Linked DNA regions of Homo sapiens: region 1 is linked to region 2. The links come from fine-mapping of genetic effects on gene expression. A gene starts in region 2. The other region holds a variant in brackets. All regions are shown on one strand. Distances are between the middles of the regions. Region 1 has its middle 51 kb from the start of RPUSD4. Region 2 holds the start of RPUSD4 (RNA pseudouridine synthase D4).

Region 1 (2,922 bases), 51 kb after region 2:
CCATCTCACACCAGTTAGAATGGCGATCATTAAAAAGTCAGGAAACAACAGGTGCTGGAGAGGATGTGGAGAAATAGGAACACTTTTACACTGTTGGTGGGAGTGTAAACTAGTTCAACCATTATGGAAGGCAGTGTGGCGATTCCTCAAGGATCTAGAACTAGAAATACCATTTGACCCAGCAATCCCATTACTGGGTATATACCCAAGGGATTATAAATCATGCTGCTATAAAGACACATGCACACGTATGTTTATTACGGCACTATTCACAACAGCAAAGACTTGGAACCAACCCAAATGTCCATCAGTGATAGACTGGATTAAGAAAATGTGGCACATATACACCATGGAATACTATGCAGCCATAAAAAAAGATGAGTTCATGTCCTTTGTAGGGACATGGATGAAGCTGGAAACCATCATTCTCAGCAAACTATCGCAAGGACAAAAAACCAAACACCGCATGTTCTCACTCATAGGTGGGAATTGAACAATGAGAACACCTGGACACCGGATGGGGAACACCACACACCAGGGCCTGTCATGGGGTGGGGGGAGGGGGAGGGATAGCATTAGGAGATATACCTAATGTAAATGACGAGTTAATGGGTGCAGCACACCAACATGGCACATGTATACACATGTAACAAACCTGCACATTGTGCACATGTACCCTAGAACTTCAAGTATTAAAAAAAAAAGGGCAGGGGGAAACGGAAGCACAGAGAGGTGGAGTGACTTGTTTGCTCTGTTAGGTGCCAGCATCTGCTTCCAGCTCGCCCTGCTTTTGTTCAGCGTGCAGCCCTGAAGCGGATGCTGCCAACCCTGCTGGGTCCCCACCCCACGCCGCTCCAAAGGGGCCTAACTGTGGTCGGCGGGGCGGCATGGGTAGGGTCACCATTCTCTGATGCTATAGGTCAGAAGAGGCAAGCTTAGCCCCACTTTGGACGGAGCCTTCTTCCTCCTCCTCGCCTGGTTGCTGCAGGGTGACTGGGTGTGGGGACTGCAGGGCTGTGAGAGCCCTTACCACATCAGAGCTGGGTTCGCCTCCTGTCCTCAGATGCCCCCTCTGTCCACACACCCCTCTCTCACATGGGCCACTGTTCTCCATGCCCTTTCCTTGGGGCAGTGATCTGTCCTTTGTCAGCCAGGCCGCCTTGGGCCTTGGGAGAGGCTACCGGGAAGCAAAGCCTTGGTTGGCTGCAGTGAAGTGTGGAAGGGGAGGGGACATGCACAGTTCCCGTGTGCCACCCTTGCCTGGAGGTGATGGCACACCAAGGCACTATAGGACATCACGGGCGGTCCTTTCACCTGGCAAATGATCCAACTCATTCTGAAACGACTGCCTCCGTTCTGAAACTCTTTTCCTTCTCTGTATTTATACGCGGGTGAGATGAGGGATGCTGGAGTAAGTACACACCGAAGTCCAAGGGGACAGGGAATCTGGGGAACTGGGGGAGGAGAAACTGAATCACAGACCCCAGAGCTCAGGACCCACCTGTGATGCGTCCCATCCACAGGCCCTGCCGTCCCTGCTCTCCCAGGCTGGCCAAGCCGAGCTTCAACTCACTGCTGAGGCCAAGCAAAGCTGAGAGGATGCTGCGCTGGCTCCCTTGCAGTAAACGGTAGTAGGAAAATGCAGCTGTTTGTGTATAAACTAAAGCTTGTTACAGTCCTGGAAGCTTCCGACTTGGGGGCCCACAGGCTTGGAGTGGAGAACATTGTGGGGAGAAAAATCATGTGTGAGCTGTTACTGCTGGGCC[CT/T]GAGGCTCTGCGGCCCTGCCTGGCCCTCCGTCCTGCTGCCCCGACCTGCCCTGCTGCCCTCCCCTCACTCCACCAGACTCCAAACACAGCCCAGCTGCAGGAACATCAGCCTCTCATTATGTTCCCTCCACCCCTGCACAAACACAGCAGGTGGGGCGTGGGGCGCAGTGGGCGGGGGCAAGAGGCCAGCATGGGATTTGGCCTTTCTCAGGGTGCTGAGAAAGTGTGCCGAGGCAGGGGCCGCCGAGGACACAGTGGAGAGGTGCCCTCTGGGCGGCTTACCATGTGCCGCAGCCCAGCTGGGATCAGACCCCTGCCATCAACAGGCCTGAAAGAGACCCCTGCCCCGTGCAGGGCCTGCAGAGAAAGGTTGAGGATAAGGGCCACTGAGGAAAGCTGCAGCGGTACGGGGGCTCATTCCATTTTGACATTAACTTGGTATGCAAATAACATGCAAATTGGCCCTTTATTGTGTCTTAGTCAATAGCCAGGCATTTTTTATCTTTGGCCTGCAGCTTTGGTCTCAGCAGATCTCAGCAGGTCACCAGGTAGGAGGGAGAGGCTGTCAGCTTTAGAAGGAGGAGGCTGGGAGGGGAGGAATCATTACTTTCCTCTGCCCAGTAGCTGTTACGCCGAGGGGGGTGCTGAGGGGGCAGTGGTGGCAGATAGGCCCTGGGGGTCCCTCTCGGCGGCCTGCTGACTTACAGGCTGGATGTGGTGGGGGCAGGCGAGGGCGGGAGGCTGTGCTGAGCCTGATGGATGGGCCCTGGCGGCAGCTTTGGCCGCCCCGCTGGGGCCAGGGGCCCAGGCTCAGCACGGGAAGGTCAGGCTGAGGGTGCAGGGAGCTCCCGGTCGCTTAGAAAGGCTGCTCATGGGAGGTGGGTATCAATTTCCCAGCTGAAAAGCTGTGGGGAGGGAGGAAGAACAGACCCCATGTGGAAGAGAAGTTACACTCTGGGGGACATGGCCAGAGAGGTCCATCTTGAGTTGTGTTTCTATCTTGTTAAAGGTGAAAATTCCTGGGTTTTGTATGGGTATGGGTGCATGTGTTGAACTTAGTATGCAGGCAAAGAAGATACTGCCTTTCTTATCACCGTCTTCTGCCCTACCCCACTCCCTGCACTCACACACACACTCACCCACTAAGCAAGACAC
Region 2 (2,894 bases):
GCATTCAACTGCCAGATTCATTTCCAGAATTCCACTTTCAAGGAGTCTCTCTGCCCTACTCGAAAAGCTTCAAAGACTCCTCACTACGTATCACCTCTAGTTCAAACTCTTCAACTTGAGTCTTCTATGAGTAGCTCCACCTGATCAACTTTGTTTCTTGTTGGTACGGCTCCCTTCTGCCAAACCCTTTAGGAGGTGTAGAACCCAAATCTAATTCAACTACCTATTCTCTAATAACTCCTCAGGCAGCCTTCATTCCAAGCAGTCTTAAAAAATTGTTCCTTCTATCGTCACAGATCCATTAGTTTTCAGGACATTCTTTCTGAACTCAGCATAAGCTTTCCTCTTAACAAATGGCAGGTATATCCCAAGTTATTTTTAACACTACCATCCCAAACAGATGTTTATCTTCCCAGCCACCCCTGAGTGAAATCAGAGGGAGTCGCCTGCAGTTCGGGCAAGGGAATCCCAACATCGCATCTCGTGAGAGGAGGTATGGTGTGGTTGCAAACTATGGAGAGGAAAAATAAAGGAAACAGGAAAAGTGAAGGTCTGTGCTCCGTTCTTTCAGCTTTTTCTTTAGGAGGAGTAGGGAAGGTAGGGAGGAGACCCCCAAGAAATGAATTCTTGAGGAAGGGCAGAAAAAACACTCACAGTGCTTCCTAAGTAGGAAATAGGTGCTGGGGGCCCTGGATAAGGGAAGGGGCCGTCATCCTTAGGAGAAGGGTACAGGTTACAACGCGAAACAAAGAGGCTGGGAGTTGGAAGATGAAGGGTGGAGAGACTACAGAGATCCGGGCATCCGATCAAGAGGGTCCCCGACGCGTCCCGCAGGGGACTGGCGGATCACCGGAGATTCAGTGGCTAAGAGGGACGGCGTCGGTGCCTAGGAGGGCTCTGGGGCGAGCGTTTATGGGACATCGCTCCTAAGGGGGCGCGGGGGCGGGGAGGAGTTTTTGAGTGGGATCGTGTACCAAAAGGAGAAACGTTTCTCAGACCAGTGCTCTTCTTGAACGGAAATCCCGGGGACGCAGAAAACGTTAAACCGTTGAGGCACCGGCATTTCCCAGCCCCAGCCCGGCTTCCCTACACACTCACCGAGTCTCCTCCAAACGCCACTGCTCCAGCTGCAGCTACCGGCCGGCGCAGCCGCACTGAGCGCGCACCGTCCCCACGTGACTCGCCCAGGCCCCACCCCGCACCACGTGACCTGCAGGGCCCACCCACTCCCGCCTCATTGTAGTCGCCCTTCTCCACGTGGTCTTGGCTCGCCCCGCCCTTCCTTGTAAGATGGCGGCGCCCAGGTGGAGCGCGTCGGGCCCCTGGATCCGGGGAAACGGCCAAGGTTGCGGGAGTCTCTTCACTCTCGTCTCAAAGCCATTTTGTGCCGCTGCCGCTGCCTCTACGGCCATAAATGCCCAGAGATTAGCGGAGAAGCTCCGAGCCCAGAAACGGGAACAAGACACAAAGAAGGAGCCGGTGAGTCCAAAGGGACCAGAACTCCCTAGAGGCAGTGCGCTCATTGGTTTCCCAGACGGGGAGTAGGTAGGAGGGTCCTCTGAGTGAAAGCGTGTGAGTCAATAGCCCGGACGCAAGGTGGGAGAATGGGGAGAAGGCGGAGGGGAGGGGTCAGTAAGGGTACGGTGTTTTCCCGTGAGCTGGATCTTTGGCTACTGTCAGGCTCAGTCCTAACCACTGCGTCGGTACGCAGGTTAGACAGATGGGTATCTCTGCTCTCAAATTAGTCGAAGGCGGCGCGGGTCTGATGCAAAGATAGTCATTCCCTACTCAGATTCTCACCCAGACCTTTATGGAAGGTCTTCTCCACGGCTTCCGCACCAGGCATTCCCCACGGCTCCTTCTTTCTCCCTAGGTGTCCACAAACGCTGTTCAGCGGAGAGTGCAAGAAATAGTGCGGTTCACACGGCAGCTGCAGCGAGTCCACCCCAACGTGCTTGCTAAGGCACTGACCCGAGGAATTCTCCACCAGGACAAGAACCTTGTGGTCATCAATAAGCCCTACGGTCTCCCTGTGCATGGTAAGGACCACGCGGGAAAGGTGGAGGAACCTGCAGCTGCTTTCTGCTACAACCGAGGAAAACTGAGACGTTACTTGTGGTGCACTCTAAAGCCTTGCATTCAAATTAATTAAACTTTTGTAAACTACCGTCCAATATAAGGAACCACCGAGAACACAGAAATAAATAAATAAGACAGTCCTCCCTTTCTAAACATCTGACAGTAAGCAATTCGTAGAATACGCTGTGTGCAGACTACAGGGATCGCTGTAGAGATATACAAAGGCTGTGTGGTTCTAGACTAAAGGTTATCTTCCATCAGAACTGGGAATGAGAAAATGATACATAAGAAAAAAGGGGGTGTGTGTGTGTGTGTGTGTGTGTGTGTGTATGTATGTTGGAGTATATGTAACATACAACCCCAGAGTGACTGGAATTTAGTGGACCTTCAAATGTCTTTCAACAGATGTTGCATGTAGTTGTCAGGGACAGCTGAAGTGAATCAGGAAAGATTGATTTAAAAAATGCATTTGTGAAAGAGGGAAAAGGCCCATTTTAGCTAGAAGAAGGTAATGCTTTTTGGGGAGATACGGAGATAGTTGTTCACAAAGACAAGGAATTAAATCACATCACCAAGTGTTTGTATAATTTTTTTCTCTCTTTATTTTCGCAACAGTTTTTTGCCTTTCCATTCCCCAATGAAGTTGTTTTCCAGATATTTACATTTTATAACGAGAAAGCAAAGTTGGAAAGAGAAGTAATGTGTCCAAGGTCAAAAAAATGGCTAGTAAGAAGAGTAGAGTAGAACCCCAGGAATGTCTAACCCCGAAGTCTATCCTCCTAATCACTCTTATTTAATGCTTCTCGAAGGCCTCA

What was found. PIP is the estimated chance that this variant, and not a neighbour inherited with it, causes the effect.
Region 1: its variant is fine-mapped to the expression of RPUSD4 in lymphoblastoid cells (GTEx, PIP 0.98).

The regions. Positions count from the first base shown.
Region 1 is chr11:126,159,425-126,162,346 of GRCh38, reverse strand. No RefSeq gene overlaps it. Among named protein-coding and RNA genes, the nearest start is that of RPUSD4, 51 kb to the left of the region's middle. RefSeq lists enhancers at 1,164-1,808, 1,809-2,453. The variant CT/T (reference allele first, on the strand shown) is at 1,767.
Region 2 is chr11:126,210,035-126,212,928 of GRCh38, reverse strand. RPUSD4 (RNA pseudouridine synthase D4) reads left to right here and starts at 1,279. Exons shown (of 7, transcript NM_032795.3): 1 at 1,279-1,479; 2 at 1,874-2,039. The coding sequence starts at 1,291. FAM118B (family with sequence similarity 118 member B) reads right to left here and starts at 1,147. Exons shown (of 9, transcript NM_024556.4): 1 at 1,099-1,147. RefSeq lists an enhancer at 1,265-1,494.